Linked DNA regions of Homo sapiens. The protein of the gene in region 4 purifies or fractionates together with the protein of the main gene of each other region. This does not show direct contact. Each region holds a gene or a part of one and is shown on either strand. Other genes may lie near its edges. The genes, in order: KRR1, TBC1D3G, PYM1, PIP5K1A, TGFBR3, TFB1M and DDX55.

Evidence for each region.
Region 1: the proteins of PIP5K1A (region 4) and KRR1 purify together in Homo sapiens (co-immunoprecipitation; one large-scale study listed by IntAct). This does not show direct contact.
Region 2: the proteins of PIP5K1A (region 4) and TBC1D3G purify together in Homo sapiens (co-immunoprecipitation; one large-scale study listed by IntAct). This does not show direct contact.
Region 3: the proteins of PIP5K1A (region 4) and PYM1 purify together in Homo sapiens (co-immunoprecipitation; one large-scale study listed by IntAct). This does not show direct contact.
Region 5: the proteins of PIP5K1A (region 4) and TGFBR3 purify together in Homo sapiens (affinity purification with mass spectrometry; 2 studies listed by BioGRID and IntAct, with this or other methods). This does not show direct contact.
Region 6: the proteins of PIP5K1A (region 4) and TFB1M purify together in Homo sapiens (co-immunoprecipitation; one large-scale study listed by IntAct). This does not show direct contact.
Region 7: the proteins of PIP5K1A (region 4) and DDX55 purify together in Homo sapiens (co-immunoprecipitation; one large-scale study listed by IntAct). This does not show direct contact.

Annotation. Positions count from the first base shown.
Region 1 is NC_000012.12:75,501,610-75,505,109, reverse strand, and holds part of KRR1 (KRR1 small subunit processome component homolog), read left to right. Parts: intron 1-1,035; coding exon 1,036-1,206; intron 1,207-1,246; exon of another isoform or gene 1,247-3,109; coding exon 3,110-3,187; exon of another isoform or gene 3,188-3,293; coding exon 3,294-3,387; exon of another isoform or gene 3,388-3,500. UniProt on the Homo sapiens protein: Part of the small subunit (SSU) processome, first precursor of the small eukaryotic ribosomal subunit.
Region 2 is NC_000017.11:36,330,384-36,333,883, reverse strand, and holds part of TBC1D3G (TBC1 domain family member 3G), read right to left. Parts: intron 3,437-3,500; coding exon 3,316-3,436; intron 2,603-3,315; coding exon 2,508-2,602; intron 2,124-2,507; coding exon 2,058-2,123; intron 1,595-2,057; coding exon 1,495-1,594; intron 1,125-1,494; coding exon 972-1,124; intron 9-971; coding exon 1-8. UniProt on the Homo sapiens protein: Acts as a GTPase activating protein for RAB5. Does not act on RAB4 or RAB11.
Region 3 is NC_000012.12:55,921,395-55,924,894, forward strand, and holds part of PYM1 (partner of Y14 and mago), read right to left. Parts: intron 2,378-3,500; exon of another isoform or gene 2,047-2,377; intron 1-2,046. UniProt on the Homo sapiens protein: Key regulator of the exon junction complex (EJC), a multiprotein complex that associates immediately upstream of the exon-exon junction on mRNAs and serves as a positional landmark for the intron exon structure of genes and directs post-transcriptional processes in the cytoplasm such as mRNA export, nonsense-mediated mRNA decay (NMD) or translation.
Region 4 is NC_000001.11:151,197,354-151,201,351, reverse strand, and holds the start of PIP5K1A (phosphatidylinositol 4-phosphate 5-kinase type-1 alpha), read right to left. Parts: upstream 2,801-3,998; 5' UTR 2,356-2,800; coding exon 2,271-2,355; exon of another isoform or gene 2,226-2,270; coding exon of another isoform or gene 2,165-2,225; intron 1-2,164. UniProt on the Homo sapiens protein: Catalyzes the phosphorylation of phosphatidylinositol 4-phosphate (PtdIns(4)P/PI4P) to form phosphatidylinositol 4,5-bisphosphate (PtdIns(4,5)P2/PIP2), a lipid second messenger that regulates several cellular processes such as signal transduction, vesicle trafficking, actin cytoskeleton dynamics, cell adhesion, and cell motility.
Region 5 is NC_000001.11:91,708,152-91,711,651, forward strand, and holds part of TGFBR3 (transforming growth factor beta receptor type 3 isoform a precursor), read right to left. Parts: intron 633-3,500; coding exon 512-632; intron 1-511. UniProt on the Homo sapiens protein: Cell surface receptor that regulates diverse cellular processes including cell proliferation, differentiation, migration, and apoptosis.
Region 6 is NC_000006.12:155,290,485-155,293,984, forward strand, and holds part of TFB1M (dimethyladenosine transferase 1, mitochondrial), read right to left. Parts: intron 1-3,500. UniProt on the Homo sapiens protein: Mitochondrial methyltransferase which uses S-adenosyl methionine to dimethylate two highly conserved adjacent adenosine residues (A1583 and A1584) within the loop of helix 45 at the 3-prime end of 12S rRNA, thereby regulating the assembly or stability of the small subunit of the mitochondrial ribosome.
Region 7 is NC_000012.12:123,608,599-123,612,098, reverse strand, and holds part of DDX55 (ATP-dependent RNA helicase DDX55), read right to left. Parts: intron 3,420-3,500; coding exon 3,270-3,419; intron 2,161-3,269; coding exon 1,971-2,160; intron 1-1,970. UniProt on the Homo sapiens protein: Probable ATP-binding RNA helicase. Has ATPase activity and is involved in the maturation of precursor large subunit rRNAs.

The DNA.
Region 1 (3,500 bases), on a different chromosome or scaffold from region 4:
ATTCTAATGCACAAACAGATAAAGCAGAGCTATTTTGGGTAAATTAGGGGTAGACTTCAGCCTACTTAATTCTACCCCAGTTTTGTAGGTACTTCTTAGAAGCTCTCTGTGGAGCACAGTGTGAAAACTACTGAAGGGGATACTGTAATATGTTATATAGTTGTAATCAATGAAAGTAAGCTTCACAGAATCTGTTGTAGATCATATCAATCCAGTTTTCTTAGATTATGAACCCATGTATTTAAGGATATGATCTTTCGGAAATCTGCCTTTTTCTATTAAAATCTGGAACATCTCATGTTGCGTTAAAACCTTTTTATGAATTTAACACTCAAATTGTAGCTCCTTTGAGAGAGAACTGTTATATCCCTGTGTGCACAAAGTTTGATTATTCTTGGAAATGTAACCATGGTATATAGAACTATTTTATGATGGGTTTGTTGAGCAATCCACTTAAATTTGATGAACTTAAGTTATAAAGTCACTGTTAGATTGGGGGAAAGTGATTTTGAGTTACATTGGGATATTGGGATATTGCAGACAAAAACAAAACTATGTGTCTGATCCCTGGTTTGCATCCTCTGATGTTCCATGGTCTGAAATTTAAATGGAATAGGGAAATGTGAAAATACTGGTTTTCTGTAATCGTGAGAAAGTTTACTTTTGTCTTTTTCTGTGATATTTCAGTTGCTACTGAAAACTTCCTGCTTGCAGGGAACATCAGCTAATTAAGAGCCCTCCCTGCTTTTATAAGTGGCATTTTAAATGTTTTAATGAAATAATGGTTGAAAATTCAGTTTTATTTTTGTCTCATTTTAACAATTCTGCATTTTGTAATTAAATTTCTAATGGTTTTCTAATAATTATACATGTTTGTGATAACCTACCTTTTTGCTTATGTAATTGGTTTAATTTCACCAAAGAAACTAGGAACTGTTTCTTTTATTATTTATAGAAGCAATATTTATAATGTCTGAGTCTGACAAATGTGTGACTTTGGAAAGTAAAAATTTTTACTTTGTTGCATGACTAAAGAGCTTAATGATTAAGAGAGAGTTGGCAAAAGATTCTGAATTACGATCACAAAGTTGGGAGAGATTTTTGCCACAGTTCAAACACAAAAATGTGAATAAACGCAAGGAACCAAAGAAAAAAACTGTTAAGAAAGAATATACGCCATTCCCACCACCACAACCAGAAAGTCAGGTTAGTACTAAATGTAGAACTTCATATGAAGGAGAATCTATTTTAATGTATTTGGTCAGAAACTTTATTGAAAGTATTTCAGGTGGGATATGTGTATATATATATATTGTGTGTGTGTGTGCAGAGCTATAAGAAACTGAGGGTAAATATAAATAGGCATATTTTGAGCTGAGTGCATGGGGGTGTGCAGTGGGGCGTTCACATTGATTATAAACTGCATCCAGGAGGTTTGTGACCCTGTAGCCACTGTAAATGTTCCATGGATAAAAGTTCGTTTAGTCTGCAATACTCTTTTCTCTGATTTGGCAACATTATTGTGACTGTGTGCTCTATGGTTGTTCTTGTTCTGAAATCTTAAATTGTAAATTGTAACACCCACCGTTTTTCTAAGTTATGATTCCTTTTGTCAGGTGTCTTCTGCTTCATTTCCTTTCCCACCATGACCAGTTTCCATTTTGTTCTTGCACATCATTGTTTTGATTCATGCCCCTTTTTACTTCTGTCCCACCTTCTCAGCAAAGCTCTAAAACTTGGATCAGTCTAAAAACTTGACTTCTTCCTTGCAACGTGGCTACCAAATTAAGTTAGAGAAAGTTTTATCTTTGGATTAATTTCATTCAAAATTCATGTTTCCTCTTAATTCTCTCAGTGCCCTCCCATGTTTAGCATATGACATTGCATTTTATTGAAATATTTGAGACCACCAGATAAGAACCCCTTTCTGTTTCCTCTTCTCTCACGTATGGGTTTTCTTCCACCTGCATCAGCCTCTTCTATGTGTTCTTTGAATTCCATCTTCACCTGTCTCCTGGGGGTTCTTGCTTCATTATTCCCTTCCTTGGCTATATCCTAAAGCCTTCCCTTTCTACTTCTGCTCAGCATGTGAACTCATTGCTTTCTACATCTCTTTTTTCCACAACCATGGTTGGAGTCTTTCAGGGAAGATTTGTGATTGACGGGGAAAATGATGATCATAGTGAAAAAACAATGGAAGTTTTGGATCATGGAGGAAATTGATAGTAGTTAGGGGGAAAGTGGAGTGATGCAGTCATTAAACCATGCTTCCATAACACCTGCCTTATTTCTTATGGCCCTTTCTTGTAGTAATTGACTTATCTTTCTTCTGTAGCTGTGTAAGCTTCTTGAAACAGTGATGTCTCGATTGACTTGTTCTTAACACTTAATTCATTATGTGACTGGGCGAGTTATTTATCCCATCCATACTTAAGTTTCCCCATACCTAAAGTGGGAGTAATGGTAATACCTATCTTAAAGAATTGTTAGTGAGGATTAAATGAGTAATTATAAAGAGCTTAGAACAGTGCCTTAGATATAATAATGCTATGTAAGTGGGAGACAGGTCAGTTATACACATTTTACATGTTGGCTGTATATTGAATGAACAAGCTGTTGCTTTTGCTAATTAGTCACCAATTCCTGATAGTTCTGGCTTTTATTCTGCATGCCACTACCTTTATTCCAGGCTCTCATCTATTCTTCATTCCTCTCCATTAAAATTATTCTTTGGTCTTTACAGTCTTCTCAGAAACCTACAGTCATTTCTAAATCTTATCCCTCCTACTTTGTCTGCCATTGAAGCTTCTTCAAATTTTCCCCAAAACTCTCTCTCCAGTTTCTTCTCACACTTTTCTGAATCAGTGACCTTCCATGCCATATCCCTGAACTACTCTGGGTTGTATTCCATGGAGGTGCTTTCCTACCTCCACACTTTTGTGTATGTATTCCCCTCAGCTTAGACTCTGTTTCCTTTATGTCACTACCATTTTTATTAATAAATCAGTTTGACCCCATTGTTTTTACCCTAAGGATATTGTGACTTGCTTAGGACATGACTTCTCCTCTACATTATTTCTGATGTAATTGTAAATACCGTTTTCAACAGATCGATAAAGAATTGGCTAGTGGTGAATACTTTTTGAAGGCAAATCAGAAGAAGCGGCAGAAAATGGAAGCAATAAAGGTACGGCACTTTATGTCTGGCTCACATGAATAGCAAAGTTCATAGATACTTGAATTATTTAACTATAAATACATTTAACTGATATATTTTTTATTTATTAATGTAGGCTAAACAAGCAGAAGCCATCAGTAAGAGACAAGAGGAAAGAAACAAAGCATTTATTCCACCTAAGGAAAAACCAATTGTGAAACCTAAGGAAGGTAATGCTTTCTATGATGTAAAAGTCTTTATTAATTAGGAAAAGTAAACCCATAATAAATTTGTCTGAATCTTTTTAAGAAACAGTTGTATCTTTTCATCAGTTCTCTTAGCA
Region 2 (3,500 bases), on a different chromosome or scaffold from region 4:
GGGTTTGGCTGAAAGGAAAACAGACGCGGTCAGCATCTCCAGTGAGCCCACGCAGGCCTTTCCGGGCTGGGCCCCACCTGCCTGCGTCTCTGGAGTCCTCGGGGTCTCTGTGTGGCCCCCGTGGCCTGACACCGAGGACACGCCTGTAGTCTGCTGATCCCAGAGGGAGGGGTGCATGCTGCCTGGCGTGGGGAAGCTGTCGTGGCATGGCGGGTGGCTCCTGGGACTGCCCCCAGGGTTCAGACTGGCTGGGGGCTTCCTGCCACACACCTTCGTCCCAGGGCTGTTGGGCCTGGGATACGGCCCCCAGTCAGAACTCAGGTGGGAGGGGCCTTGGATGTCACCCAGCCCCTTGTCACCTCACGTGGGGACCCGTCTCCGCAGTGGGTGATTGGGCCCGGACGTGGGTCACCCTCTGCCCTCCTGGGCTGCCCAGTCCATGCCAGGACTGACCGTTCCCACTTCTGGCTGAACTCTTGGCTCTGGCTCTGGGCCCTCTCCCTGAATGCTCTGTGGGTCAGGGACACGGATTCCCTTGTCTCCCTGGCTCCAGGCTTCTTGTCCTGGCAACCTTGGAGGAGCGTGCAGGAGTGAGGGGCCTCTGCTGCTCTCTGAGGCTGTGGGTGCTTGCAGGGAGGGGCGGGGTCTCCCACAAATGGGTCTGGGCTCGTCTAGTAACTTGGAGGGCCCTGCGAGGGGGAGAGGGAGACACCGTGGAAAGTGGGAGGGGGCTTGTTGGAGGGTCTTGCCCACATCCCCCTCCTGCATGCACAGCATGTCCAGTATACACGCACTGAGCGCCTGCCCTGAGGACCGGTGGGCCTCCTGTACTTTCTTAGAGTCCAGGAGGAAGAGGAGGAAGAAAAGGTGAAGAGGAAGGCCCAGGTAGTAGGGTTGCGGGTCCCGGGCACTCCCCTACTACTGACTACCCCAGAGGGTGACATGGGAGGGGACATGGCACTGGAGCCCACCTGGGGGTGGCAGGTCCCCCTGCTTTCTTGTTAGTTTCTTCATAGAGGCCCTAAGATGCTTGAGCACAGTGTCCTCATCCCTGGCCCAGGTATCAACGAACCGGTTGCAAAAACGTGCCCACGGGCCACACCTGGACGTCTTCGTGAGGCGCTCTAGGGACAGGGTGGATATCAGGCCAGGGGAGTTACCTGGGAATGGTCACAGCTCATATCCCGTGGCCACTTCAGTCTCCTACTGGGCGGTGCCGGATCCTTTTGTGGCCACCCCAGGTGTCCAGATATACACAGGAGACTGTGGCTGGGGGGCGATCCGGACAGGGAAGTGCTCACCACACTCTCGACTTTCATCTGGGTCATGTGGGGGATGGGCTCAGTGTCACAGTGTCCTGCCCAGCCCACCTGGCCAGACCTCCCTCTGGGCCAGAACAGCGGATCATGAGGACAGTGTGAGGAAGCTGCCCTCGGGCCAGTCGGGGTCTGACCCCAGGGCTCCCCAGGCCCCGCTGGGCACACGTAGACTTACTCTGCTGAACCTTAAAGGCGATTCTTGTTATCGGCATCAACGCCTGTTCGCCTTCTACCAGATACACGTCCCACAGGCGCAGGGTGAGCCCGAGAGAGATCTGTGGGGACAGCAGGTGTGAAAGAACCTGGTCCTTCCAGGCTGGGGCTGGTGGCTCGAGCTGCGCACACTGGGGCTTCAGTCTCCAGAGTCAGTGACCTTCCCCATGAGGGTCGCCTGAGCCCTCCAGGACGCTGGGTCAGACAAGGTCTTGAAGCTCCTCATGGGGGGCACTCATTTGAGTGGGGATGTGGCTCCTGGAGAGAGGGGCTTGCCCAGGGCTTGAGGCTTCCCTGAGCCCTCTCAAGTCGGGTCCTGGCCCAGTCTGCCCATGAGGCTGGGCCTGAGCCCCAGCCATGGCCCTGGGATGACCCCCCTTGGGCAGAGGGTTTTGCTTGTGTGTCCTTTGGGGACCCGCCTGAGCCTCCTGTGGGCTGGGAGTGAGCCAGACCCCCGGGCTGGGGAAGCAGGGCACTGCAGGGCAAGGAAGGTCCCTGAGCCAGGGTCTCCCTATGCCTCCTTACCCCGTCAATCAATATCCGGATGAGGCAGCCTAACGGGGAACACTGCCCACATAGATCTTTCTTGTCCTGATGGAAGCAACAGAGGTGCTCAGGCCACTGGGCTGCCCTAAAAACCTCCCTCTTCCAGGGCCTCTGAAGACCCTTCCCCTAGTGCAGAACACTGGGCGGTGTCCAGAGCTCCCCACAACACTGTCACCTTCCCACACTCCCGGTGGACACACTGCCCTTTGCCCTGCTCTGTGGGAGCTGGGCCCCCATCCCTGTGCCTCTGTCTCCTCCAGGGCAGGAAAGGAAACCAACTCCCAGCCCATGGAGAACCCGACGTCCCAGGTCAGGCCCTGGCTGGGACTCAGCCAGTCACCAGCCCCACGAGGGGCTCCAGCCCCCCTGCTCCTACAGCCCCACGGGAGGCAGGGCCTCTGGGAAGAGCTGAGGGGACCATAAACTCACCTGATGCCCCATGGTCTTGGGTTGTGACGTGGCTACCACATGCTCCTGTTGGTCTTGGAGCCCCTGGACGGTCCCGCCATTTGGGCTGTGAAATCCTGAGAAGCCCCCAGCCCATCATGAAATCAGAGCCTTCCCCCAAGATGTGGAGCCATCAGCTGCAAGAGCTGGGCAGCTGGAGAGGCCCCCAAACCCCAAGGCCTCCCACCCTCCCATCTGGTGACCCCAACATGCGGCCTTTACCCTGGGGAGGTGGGGCGGGAACATTCCCTGGAGCCTGGCTGGAGGTTCCCCTGGAGGCCTCCTGGGCCAGGGTGCAAAAAGGGCAAGCCTGACTTTCAGGCCACGACAGGGTGGCCGGAACTGGGTGGGCGCTGGGCTTCCCGGTCATCTCCTGGTAGTGGGGTCGGGCCAGGGAACAGGGGATGGGGAGATGCTGCCACCTGGGCTTGGTCGGCCCATTCGTGGGCACCGATGGCAGCAGGAGCCCGGGCAGCTGGAGGGCAGGAGGACTCTCAGGGAGGGGAGAGTCAGCTGCACAGAATCAGAGCCGGAGGGCGTGGCTCCAGGACACAGAGGGTGGCCACGGGGAGGATGAGATGCCCTCTGCTGATGGGGATGACAGGCGTCTGATTTGGGCTTTGGGGGTCAGCCGTGGACTCCTGTGGGACCCTCAGCAGAGACATCCTAAAGTCTCCCAACAAGCTGGCGACACAAGGAGGGTGCCTTGGCTGAAAGCTGTGATCACCTGGCCAGGGTGGCCATCCCCAGGTCTGGCTGCAGGAGGTCCCCGGGGCAGCTGTTCACTTACCCTGCAGGGAGTGCCTCTCACTGGCCAGCAGCTGCACCAGTGCCCAGAATGCATCCTCCTCAGGAAGATAGAGGAGGAACAAGGCGGCGATGTGGCTCAGGTCCCTGCAGTAGCCCACCTCCTGCAAGAGCCAGAGTCACCATGGAAGGACATCACCTGGGAGGGCTGAGGTCACCTGGGAGGAC
Region 3 (3,500 bases), on a different chromosome or scaffold from region 4:
ACTGTAGATGGGATAAGGGTAACAGCAGTAGGAATAAAAGAATGATATTTTGATAACTGATATACATGAGGAGGGCAAGAGAGAAGTAAAAGATGATAATAAAAATAATCATAAAAAAATAAAACTCCCATAAATAAAAAAAAATACTCCCATAGAAATAAAAACACCTAGTGATCAGATCTTAGTTTTTAACATTACTCTTTAGTAAAAAGAACAAGGGCTTCTTGGAGAAATGGCAGACCGCAGGACTGGAGCAGAGAACAAAATCATACCTGCAATGATGGCAAATGTCAAAGGGAGATGGGCCAAGTAAAAAACTAAAAGAGTTCCCAATGTTCAAAACTGGAACATTTGAGCAATAAAGCAAATAAAATAGTATTGGATTATAACCTAACATATAAAATACACATCTATAAGTCCATATTGATATACATAAATTAATAAAGGAAAAGAAAAAAATCTCCTGGGCAGAAAAATGCCAAATAGTGTGTTTTTTTAATTGTTTTTTGAGACAGCCTCTCACTGAGGATGGAGTACAGTGGCACAATCACGGCTCAATGCAGCCTCAGCCTCCCTGGCTCAATCTTCCCCTCTGAGGCTCCCTGAGTAGCTGGGACCACAGGTGTGTGCCACCTTACCCAGCTCGTTTTTTTTTTAAATCTTTTTGTAGATAAGAGGTCTTGCTATGTTGCTTAGGATGGCCTCAAGCAATCCTCCAGCCTCAGCCTCCCAAAGTGCTGGGATTACAGGCATATGCCACCATGCCCAGCCCTTAATCTCTTTTTTTAAGGAGAGCACAACTCTCTACTCCTTATGCGTGGGCTGGCAATAGTGACTTCCCTACAGTATGGAAAGGAAGGGGGTAAAGCCTAACTTTACAGTGAAGCCTTACAAACAATATCTCTGCCAGATGATCACGGTCAATACTAACAGGCTGGGCATAGTGACTCATGCCTAGTAATCCCAGAATTTTGGTAGGCCAAAGGGGAACAATACCTTGAGCTCAGGAGTTCAAGACCAGCCCAGGCAACATAGTGAGACCATCTTTACCAAAAAAAAAAAAAAAAAAAAAATTAGCTGGTCATGATAGCACACGCCTGTGGTCCTAGATACTCAGGAGGCTGAGGTGGGAGGATCAATTGAGACTGGGAGGTCAAGATTTCAGTGAGCCATGATGGCATCACCGCACTCCAGTCTGGGCAACAGAGGGAAGACCCTGTCTCAAAAAAACAAAAATATTAACAGTAAAAAATCATTGTGATACTATGTACCCTGATACAATGTGATGAAAATGTCACTTTACCTCTGTGGTCTTCCTCCCCAAAACACATAACCCAAATCTAATCATGAGAAATACATCAGACAAATTCCAATAGAAGGATATCCTACAAAATACCTGACCAGTACTCCTCAAAACTCAAGGTCATGGAAAACAAGGAAAGCCTGAGAAAATGTCACAGCCAAGAGGAGCTTAAAGAGACATGAGAACTAAATGTTATGTAGTACCCTGGATAAGATCCTGGAACAACAAAAAAAAATTAGGTAAAAAGGCTGGGCGCAGTGGCTCACACCTGTAATCCCAGCACTTTGGGAGGCCGAGGTGGGCAGATCACCCGAGGTCAGGAGTTTGAGACCAACCTGACCAACATGGAGAAACCCATCTCTACTAAAAATACAAAATTAGCCGGGCATGGTGGCACATGCCTGTAATCCCAGCTACCCAGGAGGCTGAGGCAGGAGAATCACTTGAACCCGGGAGGCAGAGGTTGCGGTGAGCTGAGATCTCACCATTGCACTCCAGCCTGGGCAACAAGAGCAGAACTCCGTCTCAAAAAAATAGTAATAAATAAATAAATATAAAAATAAATTAAGTAAAAACTAAGGAAATCAGCCAGGCATGGTGGTTCACACCTGTAATTCTAGCACTTTGGGAGGCCAGGGCGTGAGGATTGCTTGAGCCCAGGAATTTGAGATCAGACTGGGCAACAGAGCAAGACCGCATTTCTACAAAAAATACAAAAATTAGCCAGGCGTGGTGGTGTGTACCTGTAGTCCCAGCTACTCAGTAGGTTGAGATGTGAGGATCACTTGAGCCCAGAAGTTAAGACTACAGTAAATGGTGATTGCACCACTGCACTCCAGCCTGGGTGACAGAGCAAGACCCTGTCTGAAAAAAAAAAAAAACAAAACTAATGAAATGATGTATGGATTCTAGTTAATAGTAATATATCAATATTGCTTCATTAATTGCAAGCAAAGTACTATATTAACGTAAGATGACAGTAATGGGGAAACTGAGTGTAGGGTATATGGGAAATCTCTGTAGCATCTTCTCAATTTTTCTATAAATCTAAAAGTGTTCTAAAAAATCAAGTATATTTAGAATATTAAAAAAAGAAATGGCTAGGCGTGGTGACTCATGCCTGTAATCCCAGCACTTTGGGAGGCCAAGGCTGGCAGATCACGAGGTCAGGAGTTCGAGGCCAACCTGACCAATATGATGAAACCCTGTCTCTACTAACAATACAAAAATTAGCCAAGCGTGGTGACATGTGCCTGTAATCCCAGCTACTCAGGAGGCTGAGGCAGAAGAATCACTTGAACCAGGGAGGCGGAGGTTGCAGTGAGCCGAGATCGCGCTACTGCACTCCAGCCTGGGCGACAGAGTGAGACTCTGTCTCAAAGAAAAAAAAAAAAAGAAACGATACAAAAGTTTACCTTGGGTTGGCTAGAATAATGGTGCCTTTAACAGAAATAGTGATGGAAAAACTGATACTGGTTTTGGTCAGGTTGGATTTGAGGTATAACAGTATATCCAAGAGTGAAGATATTCACGAAACAATTAGAAAAAGGCATAGGCAACTCGAGAGAGGGTAGTGCTAGAAATAATGACTGCAAAGAGTTAAGAACAAATAGGCAGCAAGGAAACAGAAATATCAGGAGATTTCTTCATATTCGAGAAATCTGGGGCCAGGTGCATGCTCACACCTGTAATCCCAACATTTTGGCAGACTGAGGTGGGAAGATCACTTAAGGCCAGGAGTTCAAAACCAGCCTGGGCAACATAGCAAGTCTGCATCGCTTCATTTTTAAAAAAAGAAAGAAACAAACAAAATCTGGCTGTGAAGAAAAAGGAAACAAAAATGATAGGCCTTGAGTTTTCAGTGAAATAAAAATGAAGTCTTCTGCCAAAAGAAGGAGAATTAAAAGGGATGGTCACACAGATCTGGAAAAGGTTGGGGAAACAGCTATGGAAGAACATAAAAAATAAATTTAAATATTTATTTATTATTTATTTTTGAGACAGAGTCTCGCTCTGTCGCCCAGGCTGGAGTGCAGTGGTGCGAACTCAGCTCACTGCAACCTCTGCCTCCTGGGTTCAAGCGATTCTCCTGTCTCAACCTCCCGAGTAGCTGAGATGACAGGCCCACGCCACCATGCCACCACACTCAGCTAATTTTAGTAGTTTTAGTAGAGACGGGGTTTCACCATATTGGTCA
Region 4 (3,998 bases):
AAACATTTATACAATCTGTATTATTAACTGTTAGTGAGAGGATCTGACAGAAAACATAAAGACCTACAAAAATACCAAAGAGTACAAAGCAAACACCTGACTTAATAGTTGAGAAGTTTGTTTATGGACCATACACAACCCTTCTTCTTTCTGGGTTGGGGATTAGAGGGGAAGCAGGTTTCAAATTAAGGAGCTACTCTATTAAAAATAAAAACCCAGGTGGGGCACGGTGGCTCACGCCTATAATCCCAGCACTTTGGGAAGCCAAGGCGGGCGGATCACAGGGTCAGGAGATCGAGACCATCCTGGCTAACACGGTGAAACCCCGTCTCTACTAAAAATACAAAAAACAAAATTAGCCAGGCGTGGTGGTGGGCGCCTGTAGTCCCAGCTACTCGGGAGGCTGAGGCAAAAGAATGGCGTGAACCCGGGAGGCAGAGCTTGCAGTGAGCCGAGATGGCCCCACTGCACTCCAGCCTGGGCGACAGAGCGAGACTCCGTCTCAAAAATAAATAAATAAATAAATAAATAAATAAATACCCTGTCACTTTTACTTTATCCTATTTCATGCTTATAATGCAGCATGAGTTGTTCTGGTCCCCTAATACTTTTATAGGAAAGGTAAAAAATCCCCTCTCAACAAACTAAAAATAGAGATTTATTAAAAATAAATAAAACTGCAGCTTATTAAGAAGATATGTGTGACTAGATATTTCAGCATCTGAGCTGGAATGTGAAAGGTGGAAGGAACCCTATTCAGCAAATTCTAAACAGCAAAAACGCAACACCAGGCCTGAGGAAATACCAAAATCTCAAGCAAAGCATCCAACATCTGGCAGCGTCTATTCCAGTGTAGAAGCAGCAGTTACTGTGAAACACCAGACACTTCTGATGGAAGCGCTCAGTTTCTGACTCACCTCCCGCCCCCCCACCCGACACACATACACACACTTTCTCCCCTACACACAATCTACTGCTTTTCTTGTGAGCCTCCTCAGCCCTCCCTCAATCTTCATTCGTTTTTAACTATTAATACGCTGAGCTCTCTACATTAACCTGGCTCCATTCTCCAAATTCCAATCTCCTGATACAGCGTAAGCATTCTTCCAGTCCATTTTTCTATTATGCAATACTCCCCCACAACACTTACAGTCACCCCCCCACCCATCTTTCTTCTTCTCAGGCCTAATTTCCAAAACATCACTTCTCGCAGTCTCTACTGCAATTCAAGACTCCATTCCATCTTTCCCATCTGTTTTTAAGGTCTTTGACCTTAATTTCCTACATTCCTTAGACTCTCTTCAAAATTTCCATTCCTTCCCAAAGTTGGGCAGTTTAGAGTTGGGAATCACCAAAGGAATTAGTCTGAGAAAGTATGTATGTGTGTCTGTGTGCCTGTGCGGCCCTAAGGGTGGGGGTGCGAAGTGAGAAGGGGTGACACATTAGGGGGGAGTATCTGAGGGAAAAGATGGCTTCAACAACTCCCGCCCACCCAACAAAATTCACGATTCCCTACCTCTCCAGAAATCGAAAGCGTCCAATAACTTTTCGATATCTTTTAAGTCCCATGGCTTCTCTTCAACATTTTCATCCAATTAGCCCACAATCAACTTAGATTCCACCTGCCTCTCACACTAAGTAGTTCTCTCTACTTCTTAGGCCTCCATTTACTTTCTTAGTTTCTCTACTCCCTTCCGTTTCTCTTGTTTCCTACCGCAACTTCTTTTTTTTTTTTTTTGAGACAGGGTCTCACTCTCTCGCCCAGACTGGAGAGCAGTGGCCCAATCTCGGCTCACCGCAAGCTCTGCCTCCCAGGCTCAAGGGATTATCCTGCCTCAGCCTCCCAAGTAGCTGGGATTACAGATGCACGCCACTACTGTCCGGATAATTTTTGTATTTTTAGTAGGGACGAGATTTCTCTATGTTGGCCAGGCTCGTCTCGAACTTCTGACCTCAAATGATCCGCCCGCCAAGGCCTCCCAAAGTGCTGAGATTACAGGCGTGAGCCACCGCGCCGGGCCACCCTACCCCCACCTTCAATCTCCATCCGTCCTCCTCAAAGACAACCAAAGTTTTCGACAACTTCTTAATCAAACTTATCCTTTCCTCAAACTCCTGCCCGCTCATAAATCCCTATTTGAAAGCCCAGCTCGCGCCCACTTACCGGTAACACGTAGGACATTCCCAGCTACAGGTACCCTCTTAGGTCTCGCTCTTCCTCCCATCGCATATTCCTCACCAGCTCCCTACCCACGCCCTGCCGGGCTTACCTGAGGACAAGGTACAGGAAGGGACCGCGGGATCAAAGGATGAAAAACCGACCGAAGACGACGGCCCGGAGGAGGCCGACGCCATCTTAGCAGCCCCCTCCCCCTCAGCGGCCTGGCTCTCTTTCAATCCGGTTCTTCCTCTTCTCGGAATCGAATCTTCCCAACGTCTCTTTACAGAACCCGCGTTCTGTGGGCCACCTCCCCGCCCCCTCCGGGGCCTCCCTCAGACACGTCGAGCCGGCTCCTGGACCAGCTCAAGGCCACACCATTCGCCTGGCATGGGGAAGAACTCACGTCCCGCACCCCCTCCACAAGTTTAACCGCTTTCCACAGGGGATACTTTCCCCTTTCACAGAAGAGTAAGCTTAAGCTGGCTGCTGGGACCTTGCGCCCAGACCAAGCCACATCTGAAAAAAAAACGAGGCATGAAAAGTCCCAAAGGAGCGAACGCCCCTTCTCCGTCCTTCCTAACCACGGCCTGTTAATCGCCCAACCCGGCCGCTTCACTCCGGGTAGCCAAGCAAAAAATCCGAGCACTGCGCATGCGCCCGACCTTCTCGGGGCATCAGCCCACTCATTGGGGAGAAAAAAGGAGCAAAACCAATCGGGAGGCTGCTAATGGTCACGTGAGGTGGGTCCTCACGCCCTGACGAGTCCACGGGTGGAAGATGTGCGCGCGCGGGTTGGCCGACAGTCCCTACGGTGGCTCGGCAGGTCCTCTTAGGTTCAGTTCTTTGCTAGGACTGGGTCGAGTGATCTGAACTCGGGACAAGAGTCGGTCCGCCAAGTCCTCTGAAATTCCTAACCCAGGAAAGAACTCTCTGCGGGAGTACTGGTGTCAAGTCAGAGACGTTAAGGTGTCGAATATCACAAAACATTTAATACCACCAAGAACTCTTCTTAGTCTTTTTCCTGTTTTACTACTCTTGTTTACTATTTGATTAAACGTGCGTGCATGTCTTACCTTCCTCGGAATGGCATTCGAAATAGATCTGTGTTTTGTTTGCCTCAAGCACAAAGTTAGGCACTGCACAGTGACGGAGTTCAGTAAATATTTGATGCATGAATCAGTGAAGACCTGTCAAAAAAGGGCACGGGAGGCTATCAGGGACTTATCACAACCTTCCCGCGACCCAACCCCTTTAGCCTCCAACTGTCAATTATCTGTGCTCCAAAGGGCATGGAGATACACAGAAAAATTTCTCCCATTGTAGTCTTCGTAGTAACTGCTCGTTTTTAACAAAGTACCCCGTAGGCTATGAACCCTGGTGGGAAGACCAGTCTCTCTGAGCAGACTGTAAAACTTCTGGGGAGCAAGGACTGTGTTTGGTTCACTCTTGTATCTCCAGCTCCTCCAGTGACTTCGTACATAGTAGGGGCTCCATAATTATCTGTGGAATGAATAAATAAAGAGGAATGGTAAAACATTCGGGGTAAGAGTCGGTCAGATAGATCCTCTCAAACTCATGGCCCATGAAATAACTCCATTAAAACAGGTTTTGTGGCCGGGCGCGGTGGCTCACGCCTGTAATCCCAGCACTCTGGGAGGCCGAGGCGGGTGGATCACGAGGCCAGGAGATCGAGACCATCCTGGCTAACACGGTGAAACCCCGTCTCTACTAAAAATACAAAAAATTAGCCGGGCGTGGTGGCGGGCGCCTGTAGTCCCAGGCTACTCGGGAGCCTGGGGCAGGAGAATGGCATGAACCTGGGAGGCGGAGCTTGCAG
Region 5 (3,500 bases), about 59 Mb from region 4:
TGAAAACTGAATTTTAAGATGCATTTGGGCAGTGGTTCTCATCTGTTACACCTAAGATGAATAATGTTCACATATTCTCAAAGGCATTTGCAATTTTGATAAAGCAATACAATAGGTTATAGCCAGCATAAACTTTAGCAGTAGATCACAGAAAGATGAACTGTGGATTGTGTGCAATTCCCGGGACATGGGACTAACTAGAACCCTTTTTTGCATACTCAAGGAAGCATATTTGAATGCAAGGGAGAGTGACCTTATGACAGGAACAACCTAGACCTGATTCTTTTTACAGAGGAAATCATTTTCAAATAGATTACTTACAACTAAGCCATAATGGCTGTAAGAGAACCAGCTAAAGAAAAGACTCTTCGGGCAAAAAATGGTCTTCTAAAGTAACTAACTGGCCCTTTAGTTATCTTGTGAATAAAGCTGGACTTTGATTTACACTATTGGGTCTTCTTAACAAGCAGAGCTCAGGCCCCATGCTCTGATCGTGCCTCCCAAAGCACACCTTTAGATTCTGCTTCATGGTGGATCACAGCAAGGGGCTTAGTGAACGTCTTCTTATTCTGCATCATGGCCCAGATTATCGAGGCGTCCAGCGAGGTGCAGGCTTCGTCAGGAGGCACACACTGCAGACAGGCAGAACAAAGCACAGAATCAGGGGCCACTCAAAAGTGCCTTCACCAGCTCTACCTGCACAGCTGTCCTGTGGCCTTTTATCAGACAGCACACAGCTGTTCACTACAGAAAAGCAAGAAGGTGGGTGTTTTTCAGAGAACACCAAATAACCTGGGAGATATGACAGCAGGCCCAGTGGATTTTTGGTTGTACCTGAAGATGCAAATATCACTGGATAGCTTCTCAATATTGTCCTCCCCCTCCCCTTCTTCTCACAAAACTAAACATTTTAGTGTTAGTTTGAAAAACAGAAAAACTATATGCCTAGTGTTGGTCCTCACCAAGCTGGGCTTCATATACACGGTTCATGTTTGTGATTGGTGATTGTGGGAAATTTCCCATAAAGACGCTCCTCAACTTATGATGAGGTTACATCTTGACAAACCCACTGTAAACTGAAAATATCACTAAGTTGAAAATGTGTTTAATACACCTAAAGTACCGAACAACACAGCTTAGTCCAGCCTACTTTAAACATGCTCAGAACACTTACGTTAACCTACAGCTGGAAAAATCATGTAACACAAAGCTTATTTCATAACAAAGTGTTGAATAGCTCACATAATTTATTGAATACTTAGATTGAAAAACAGAATGGTTGTATGGGGACTGTCTATACTGCATTATGAAGGTGACAGATTTTACATTTTTCTCCAATAAGATAATCATGTTGCTGAGTTTGTTTCATTTTTAATCCTGGTATAGGCTCATGTAAAACTAAACTTTCCAGGGTCATCTGCTTTTAATGTTTCAAAATGCAGATCCTGGGGGCTGTGCCCAGGTTGTGGAGGCCATGAGATTAGCCGCTTCAAACCTATTAATGAGCATGCTCAGGCCCACTACATCTGTTTTGAAAAAATATGATCACACTCCGCACTTTTTCTTTAAAATAACTTTGTTTTCTTGTCTATATTTATCAATAGGTATAGTTCTTTTTTATTTTTCTTGAGACAGGGTCTTGCTGTGTTACCCAGGCTGGAGTACAGTGGTACAATCATGGCTCACTGCAGCCTTGGCCTCATGGGCTCAAGTCATACTCCTGCCTCAGCCTCCCCAGTAGCTGGGACTACAGGTGTGCACCACTACACCCAGCTAATATATATATAGTAGTGACAGGGGTCTCACTATGCTGACCAGGCTGGTCTCGAACTCCCAGCAAGCTGCCAAGCTCAGCCTCCCAAAGTGCTAGGATGACAGGCATGAGCCCACGCCCAGCCTAATAGGTATAACTCTAAAGTAAATGACAGCTTCTATGGTAAGAAGACATATTAATACAGCCATCATTTTAAGTCTATAGCAGGCATCCCAAAAAGCTAATCAAGTTCCATCTTTTCCAAACACAAAAGAGCAAAGACTTTAGGCCTTGCTGTCATTGCTGCTCTGAGCAACATGCCAGTCAGACACTTCTTATAAGACAACCCTCACTGCCCTACTCTTACCCCCTCAAAAAGAGAAAAGCCTTTAACAAGAGCCCTCTTGTAAAGAAAAACAACAAATTTTCTGTGGAGAGGCATGATGACTGAAAAGAGTTGCATTTTGCTTTCCTGTTTTAGTTTACTGTTACTTTCCTATTGAGCTCTTCAGTTAAGCAAGAGTCTATGATTCCGCATTTAACTCAGTGGAGTGTGACCCTGGGCAAGACACTCTGCTCTCCGGGTCTCGGTTTCATCAGCAAAGGGCAGGGTTGGTCTCAACAATCTCTGAGATCTCTTCCTAGAAGATTCTTTGGCGCTCTCTATTGTCACAGAAAGCACTCAGAAAATAATAGAAATGTGAAAATATTACCTATAAGCAGCAAACAGAAAGACAGTGGTAACAGCTCATCCAAGCCTCTGCCAGATAAAGGGCTGTCATTGTACATACTGTCCTATTTGCTCCTCTACCCAGGAGGGAAGCCAGGTATGATTATAACAGTATATGAGGAAATACAGGCTCTAAGGGGTCCAGAGACTGGCTTAAAGTCCCATTGGTGGCAGCAGAGCTTCCTTCTCAGTCCCAGGCTCTTTCCATGTTATCTTACCTTGGGGGTAAAGGGCGACTTGAGGTTTAGGGTTATATCCCATCATGTCATCCCCTGAGGCTTAGAACTCTCTTTACGATTAATTTTCCCAGATTAACACACATGAAGCTGGGCTGTTCCAGGCCAGGTCAGAGAGAAGTAACAGCCAAAGCCACAGCAAAGATCCCTGGTAACTGCTAGGTCTCCCCTCCAAGACCTCTAACCCTTAAACGTTACCCTTCTGCCCACAGGAAGCAGCTGGTCCCACAGCCACACATGAAGCTCCTCATGGCTCTCTACCACTGTCCACTAAGCCCCAACCCTGATGGTGAATGCCTACAAGGCTAAGGCATCACCGCCGCAAAAGCAAACCTAGGAATATAGTCTAAATCACTGTATATGTGCTCCCCAATGATTATGATCATATCTGCTCTATTTTCGTATGCAAACAAAATTCTCTTGGGTGTTATCAGAGAAAAGGATGCCCAGGGGACTATAATGATGCAAGGAATTCAGATCAATTGTAATCTATTTGGAAATGGTGGTTTTTCCTCCTACCTCCATACCTAAGACTTAAAATCTGTGAGTTAAATGAGAAAATTCCATACATACATTATTAATAACACTGCTTGATTCTTAGCCTTTTAGACATTGATATATGACTGCGAAAGGACTGGAAATCAGTTTACTCTGTGTGAGATAGCCACAGAATAAATGCACATATGAAATTATACATAATTATGGCAGATCACAGAAACAAAACTATGGCAGAAGATACCTTTCATATACAAGACCAACCTAGTGGGTATCATAGTTAACC
Region 6 (3,500 bases), on a different chromosome or scaffold from region 4:
GACCAGTGTTACCTAGACTTCTAAGGCATTCCATAAATTATAGACTCTATATAAACTCTTCTCAATATTCATGCTAAAATTGAACTAAAATCAACTTTTTTTGTTAAAGAAAAAGAATTGCATATGGTGAAGTCGAAGCAACACTATTATTAATAACCACAACTGACATGCTGAGTCACCGAAAATATTACTCCACCTCTTCTTAAGCCTCTGTTTCTTTGTGTTTCCCCCCACACAAATAGAGTACATAGTATTTTGTATCTCTATTGTGTTATTCAAGAGCAGAAATACCAAAATAATCATGTCGGCTGAGAAAAATAAATCCACAGATGTGGTTTAATAAGAAATATATTTGGACTTTGTCGCTGGCTCCTAAAGCCCTTGAAATTTCCTGAGTAATCGGCATGTCTTGCTTTAAATTCACAAGTCCCCCAGAGTTTACAGTAATGAGATAACTTAGGATGAGGCCTCTAGGTAGCTCAAGATGGGGCTGGTCACTGAGACCAATTGATTACCCATTACTCAAGTGTAGGTAAGGTGTTTCCCTGAGTTTTTGAGCCATTCTGAAAAATGATTCAATCTGAGGAGGGGGACATGGAACCCTCTGATTTATTTTATAGCTGGTCGCTCAGAACTCCTAGAGGCCCAGATTTGTGACTGTCATCTGAAGTGAGGCGCAGTCTTGTGGGACTTGGCCCTTAACTTGTGGGATCTAACACTAAAAACATGTGGACAGTGTCAGAATTGAATGAAACTGCAGGATACCCAGCTGGTGTTCGGAGAATTGGAGATTGCTTGGTGTGGAAAAAACCCACACATCTGGTGTCAGAAGTTGTATAAGTGCAGAGGAAACAAGAATGGTTTCTGTCAGAACCAACATATCCAAAGGTTGAGAAAAACAACAAAGAAAACTCAGCATGGGCCCAATTCAAACCAACCCAAGAGAATTAGCAGGTTCATGAAGAGGAAATGACAAAGACCTTAAGAAAAGTGGTGATATCATCTCAGGGTTCCTAACAAACATGCAACGGTCCTACGTTTTTATGATGGGAAGTTCCAAGACTCCTGAGAGAAAGATTTTATGGCCAAATCATCTAAAGGAAAGTTTTCCAACCTTGGCATGACTGACATCTTGGGCTGATTAATGTTGGGTGGTTCTTCGCTGTGGGAGGCTCTGCTGTGCACTGAAGAATGCTTCCCAGCATCCCTAACCTTCTATCCACTAGAGACCAGAGCCCCCTCCCTGGTGTGACAACCAAAAACATGTCAGACATTGCCAAATGCCCCTGAGGAGCAGATAAGGCAAAAGTGCCCTTGTTGGAAATGATTCCCCTAAACAGAAACAAGGGTAAAAAGAGAGGGATAGATCTAAGAAATGAAATTCTTATGATACACTCAAATTATCTGAGAGGAAGGCATTTAAAGAATTAAGCTTATGTAGTAGTAGAGTCTATTGATTTCAAACAAATTCTGGCATTAAAAAGTTTTGTTCTGAAACAAGTATAAAGCTGAATAAGTCATAGGAAACAAGAGTTTGCATAAACAGGACAACAGGTGGAGCAGGACTGTCATTACTGAAATGGAAAGGAGATGAGCCTTAGATGCCCGGCCTGAAGAGGACTGGAGGCCCTTCTCAGGCTGCAGCAGAGGCAGGGGGCAGCTCAAACTGAGCCTAGAGGTCTCCTGGGCTCAGGGAGCCAGACCTGGAGATCTGGGAGGCCTCGGCAGGCAGAATTTGTGGGGCAGACTACCAGAGACATGGAAAACGCACACACGCGGTGCTCACACGTGTGCAGGAGCAGCGGGTGGGGGAGACAGGAACAGGAGAGGGAGAGAGAATGTGAGGCAGAGCTCCTGAGGTAGCAAAAGGGTCCCAAGGGTCCCCCAAGTCCCCTGCTGAGCACTGATCTGCAGGTGCCTGAGGCTTGGGAGCCTGAACTAGAACCAGGGGAAGGCAGGAGCAACTGGGGCTCACATGGCTCAAGAGGCCTTGTAACATGCAGGGCGTTGGGTGCCTTCCTCAGAAAGGGCATGATGTAGTACTGGGGCTCAACGAGCCCCAAATTAAAAGCTACCCTGGATCCACCAGAACAATAAAAGCCTCAAGCAATCTTATCTATGTGTCACAACAAACCCAACACTCAACCCAATACCACAAAATCCAGCCCTCATCAGCATTAAAAAAAATAAAACTCTCACAATACCTGATGTTTTGTCAGAAATTATCAGGCTTTCAAAGAAACAGAAAAATGCAACCTATAGCAAGAAGGGGAAATCAATCACTAAAAGAGTACAGAAATGATAGAGGTAATGAAATTAGCAGGCAAGGATCTTAAAACAGCTACTTATTTGTTCAATTTTTTGAGACAGGGTCTTGCTCTGCCGCCCAGGCTGGAGTGCAGTGACATGATCACGGCTCACTGTAATTTGATCTCCTGGGCTCAGGTGATCCTCCCACCTCAGCCTCCTGAGTAGTCGAGACCACAGGCATGCAGCACCGGACCTGGCTAATTTTTTATTTATTTTTTGTAGAGACAAGGTAACATAGGGAGCTATGTTACCCAGGCTGGTCTCGAACTCTGGGCTCAAGCAATCCTCCCACCTTAGCCTCCCAAAGTGTTGAGATTACAGGTGTGAGCCAGCACGCCTGGCCAAAACATCTACTTTAAATATCATACATACATACATACATAGAAAAATGCCAAGGAAGGCATGAATGTAATGAGGACAGAAAGAGAAGATCCAAAGACCCAAATGGAATTTAGAGATAATTTTTTTTCATAATAGTTAACCAAATATCCATGCATTTACTTAATTCTTTCCTTCACTGCTGATTTTTGATCTGACCATTATCAGATACTGCTAAGGTGTCTGCATCGGGCTTTCTAGTCTAGTAATTGCTCTGTCACGTGCTGCTTCTCATACTGCTTTAATTATTAAAGCTTCACCATACATTTTAGCATATGACAAGGAAGTCTTTTCTCATCACTCTCCCTTTTCAACATTTCTTATGTATTGTTGCAGGTCTATTCCTCCAGATGATCCTTAGAACTGCGTATTTCAAGATAAGTTCTTTGAGGATTATAATTAGATATACAGAATTCTTGGAAAAATCAGCTTCTTTAAAATAATCATTTTTCCTTCTGGGGCTATGATATTTTTCTGGATTTATCTCAGTGACCTTGAGATTCTCAGTTAGGTTTTGTAGTTATTTTTATATATGTCTCTCATTTTTTCTTAGGTTTTCAAAATAATTATTTATCTCCAAATAATATTTTTGTACTTCTCATTCCAATAATGGTATATTTCCCTTGATTCACTCCCTGTTATATTTAGTTTTCTATTTATTTATCATGAATTCAATCTTAAACTCTCCTGAGTTTTTGCAACTTTTTTTTGACTCTATGCAAACTTGACAGTAGTTTTATCAAATTCCCCTTTTAATTGGCTCCAATCTGGACTGGTTGTTCTTCCTGAGGACTCCTTTCTCTCTGTCCTGT
Region 7 (3,500 bases), on a different chromosome or scaffold from region 4:
CTTCAGATTTTGGAGGATTTTGGATTTTGGAATTTCAAGTTAGGAATGCTCAACCCATACTTATTGTGTACTAAGCACTATCATGAACATTTTTGCATGGATTAATTAATTAATCCTGCAGCAACCCTACGAAGCTGTATACTACTGTGGCCCCCATTTGACAAGTAAGGACCTCTAAGTTCATCGGTTAAATCTGGTAGGGGCCAAAGCCAAGATATGCACCAGGCAGTCCTGCTCTAGCGCCCATGCTCTCCACACTACCCTATGCAGAGTCCTTCCCTCTGCTTGGGAAGAGCTAGCCTCCTCCCTCACCCAGTCCAGCTTGTCAGAAACATCAATGGCAACTACAACTCCCACTTCTGATGAGCCTATCTGATTTTGACAACACTCTCCAGTTACACTAGGTGCAGTTTCTCATTTGCAAACTCATTCTACCTTTAATCTGCCTACAAATTGACACAAACCGGAGAGCAGCCTCGACAACCTCACAGTCTGCAGCAATAGGAACATTCTGGTTTCGAGACCAGCCTCCTTCATTTTGAACAGCAGACATGTTCAGGAGCTAGGGAACCCCTCCAGGCCTAACGAAAAATTTAACCTGAGAAAGCTTATTGCAAAAGAGAAAGAAAAGCCCCAGCCCCGGGCTGGTGGGCCAGTGTACCGTCAGCAGTGGCACTGGCCTGTGGGTGCCTCCTCGCCCTGATGGTGCTGCCTCCCCTGCAGCCTGTGCTCTCTACATTTGTGCCTCCTGGCCCATCCCAGCAATGGGACAGAACAGAACAGGGGTGAGGAGTGGCCTCATTACTAAACAATCAAGTTGCCAAAAGCCCATCTACTTCTTTGTGAAGAAACTACAGAAGCCAGCAGCCAGTATTTACTACTAGAAATTCAGCATATTTGGGCCAGGCATGATGGCTCATTCTTGTAATCCCAGCACTTTGGGAGGCTGAGGCAGGAGGATCATGAGGTCAGGAGTTCAAGACCAGCCTGTCCAATGTGGTGAAACCCCACCTCTACTAAAGATACAAAAAATTAGCTGGGCATGGTGGCACATGCCTGTAATCCCAGCTACTCGGGAGACTGAGGCAGAAGAATTGCTTGAACCAGGAGGCAGAGGTTGCAGTGAGCCGAGATCGTGCCATTGCACTCCAGCCTGGGTGACAGGGTGAGACCCCGTCTCAAAACAAAAAAAAACAAACAAAAAAAAACGGCCGGGCGCGGTGGCTCACACCTGTAATCCCAGCACTTTGGGAGGCCGAGGCAGGTGGATCACCAGGTCAGGAGATGGAGACCATCCTGGCTAACAGGGCTAACAAAAAATTAGCCGGGCGTGGTGGCGGGCGCCTGTAGTCCCAGCTATTCGGGAGGCTGAGGCAGGAGAATGGCATGAACCCAGGAGGCGGAGCTTGCAGTGAGCTGAGATCGCGCCACTGCACTCCAGCCTGGGCGACAGAGCCAGACTCTGTCTCAAAAAAAAAAAAAAAAAAAAAAAAGAAACTCAGCATATTTGATGCAGGTCAAAAATACACAACATTTACGGAGCAGAACATTTCCACCCCACAAAGTCTCCTTAGGAGTGAGTCTGTCATTTGATTTTCTGTGTTCCACCTGCACATCTAACTATGCCCTTCTCTGTCAGACAGGCTGTTCTGACGGGCCCAGGAACTACAGAGCTTAGTCATGGCTGCACCCAGCACACCCCAAGCATGTACAATAGAAACATTTGGTCACTTGAGGGTAGGAGGTTCAGAGACTCTGTCCTTAGAGACTGTGCTTAAAATACATTTATGTCCAATTTAACTTATTCATTCAATGAGTAGGACCACTCAGGCCATTTGCCCTAGCTAGCTCTGTCCCCAAATGCATTTCATAGGTGCTACAGGGTCTCACATATTTATTCTACCAGTACAATTTCCATAAAATGAGCACTGGTCATTATCGCTGAGTAAGAAGCAAGCCCAGGCGCTTACCATGTAGTAGTTTTCCAGGCGGGAGGGGGTCTTCTGGGCACTGCTGGCTGCCACGCCCTTCTCCTTCACTGAGACCCGGACAGGGTTCCGGAGGCCCGCTCTCACCAGGTTCTCCACTTCCTGCGTCTGAGTGGCAGAGAAAAGGCCTGTTCTCCTCTGCTTTGGCAAAAACTCCAGAATGGTGTTGATGCTGATAAAAAGAGGGCTCACACTTAACCGCTCACTTGCCAGCAGAATCAACACACAGTGCTTCACGATACTAAACAGGTATTCAAAAAGACTGAAAGTGAAGCCATCAAAATATTTATAGCACATACACTGGGAGGTGAGATTATAGGTGATTCTTTGTTTCTTCTTTATACTTTCATTTTTCCAAGGTTCCTCAAATTTTAGCATACAATTATAATGATATGTGAATTATATCCCATAAAGCTGTTTATTAAAAAACAACAAAACTGCCAGGTGTGATGGCTCATGCTTGTAATCCCAGCACTTCGGGAGACTGGGATGGGAAGATCTCTTGAGCCCAGGAGTTTGAGACCAACCTGGGCAACATAATGGGATCTTGTCTCTGCCAAAAATTAAAAAAAAAAAGCATGATGGCATGTGCCTGTAGTCCCAGATGACTCAGGAGGCTGAGGTGGGAGGATCACTTAAGCCCAGGAAGTAAAGGTCGCAATGACCCGAAATCATGCCACTGCATTCTAGCCTGGATGACAGAGTGAGACCCTGTCTCAAAAAAAAAAAAAAAAAAAAAACTTGAAGGAAAGTGCATTTTAAGATCAAAGATAGAACTGGAATAAAATCACGTGGTAGAATTTGAAAGCTCAAACTACTTAATGATTTGAAATTAAAATGTGGTTAATAAAAATACTTAGGCCAGGCATGGTGGCTGGCACCTGTAATCCTAGCACTTTGGGTACCCTAGGTAGGAGGATCACTTAAGTCCAGGAGTTTGAGAACAGACTGGGCAACATGGCAAAACCTCATCTGCAAAAAATAAAAAAACCATCCAGGCATGGTGGTGTGCACCTGTAATCCCAGCTACCCGGGAGGCTGATGCAGGAGGATCATCTGAGCCCGAGAGGTTGAGGCTGCAGTGAACATAATCACACCACTGCACTCCAGCCTGGGTGACAGCACAAGACCCTGTCTCTAATAAACAAATAAATAAAAAATAAATAAAAATGAAAATAAAAAATAAAAATACCTAGTCATGAAACAGTAAACTCCATTTTGCTCCCCTTTTGTATTAGTATCATCTGCCCACTCAAGCCAGTGAAGTCCAAAGTCCAGTACCTTGCCTCAAACCCCATGTCCAGAAGTCTGTCTGCCTCATCCAACACCAGGACATCCAGGGATCGCACACAGCTGGCCAGATCCAAGCCTTCGGCCTTCCTCCGGAACATGTCCTCCAAGCGGCCTGGAGTGGCCACAATGATGTTCCCACTTTGGAAAGAAAGTTAACATTTACCAAACTCTCTGGATCTTGGGAATGTGGTTGATGATTACCAAAATACCAAGTTTTAT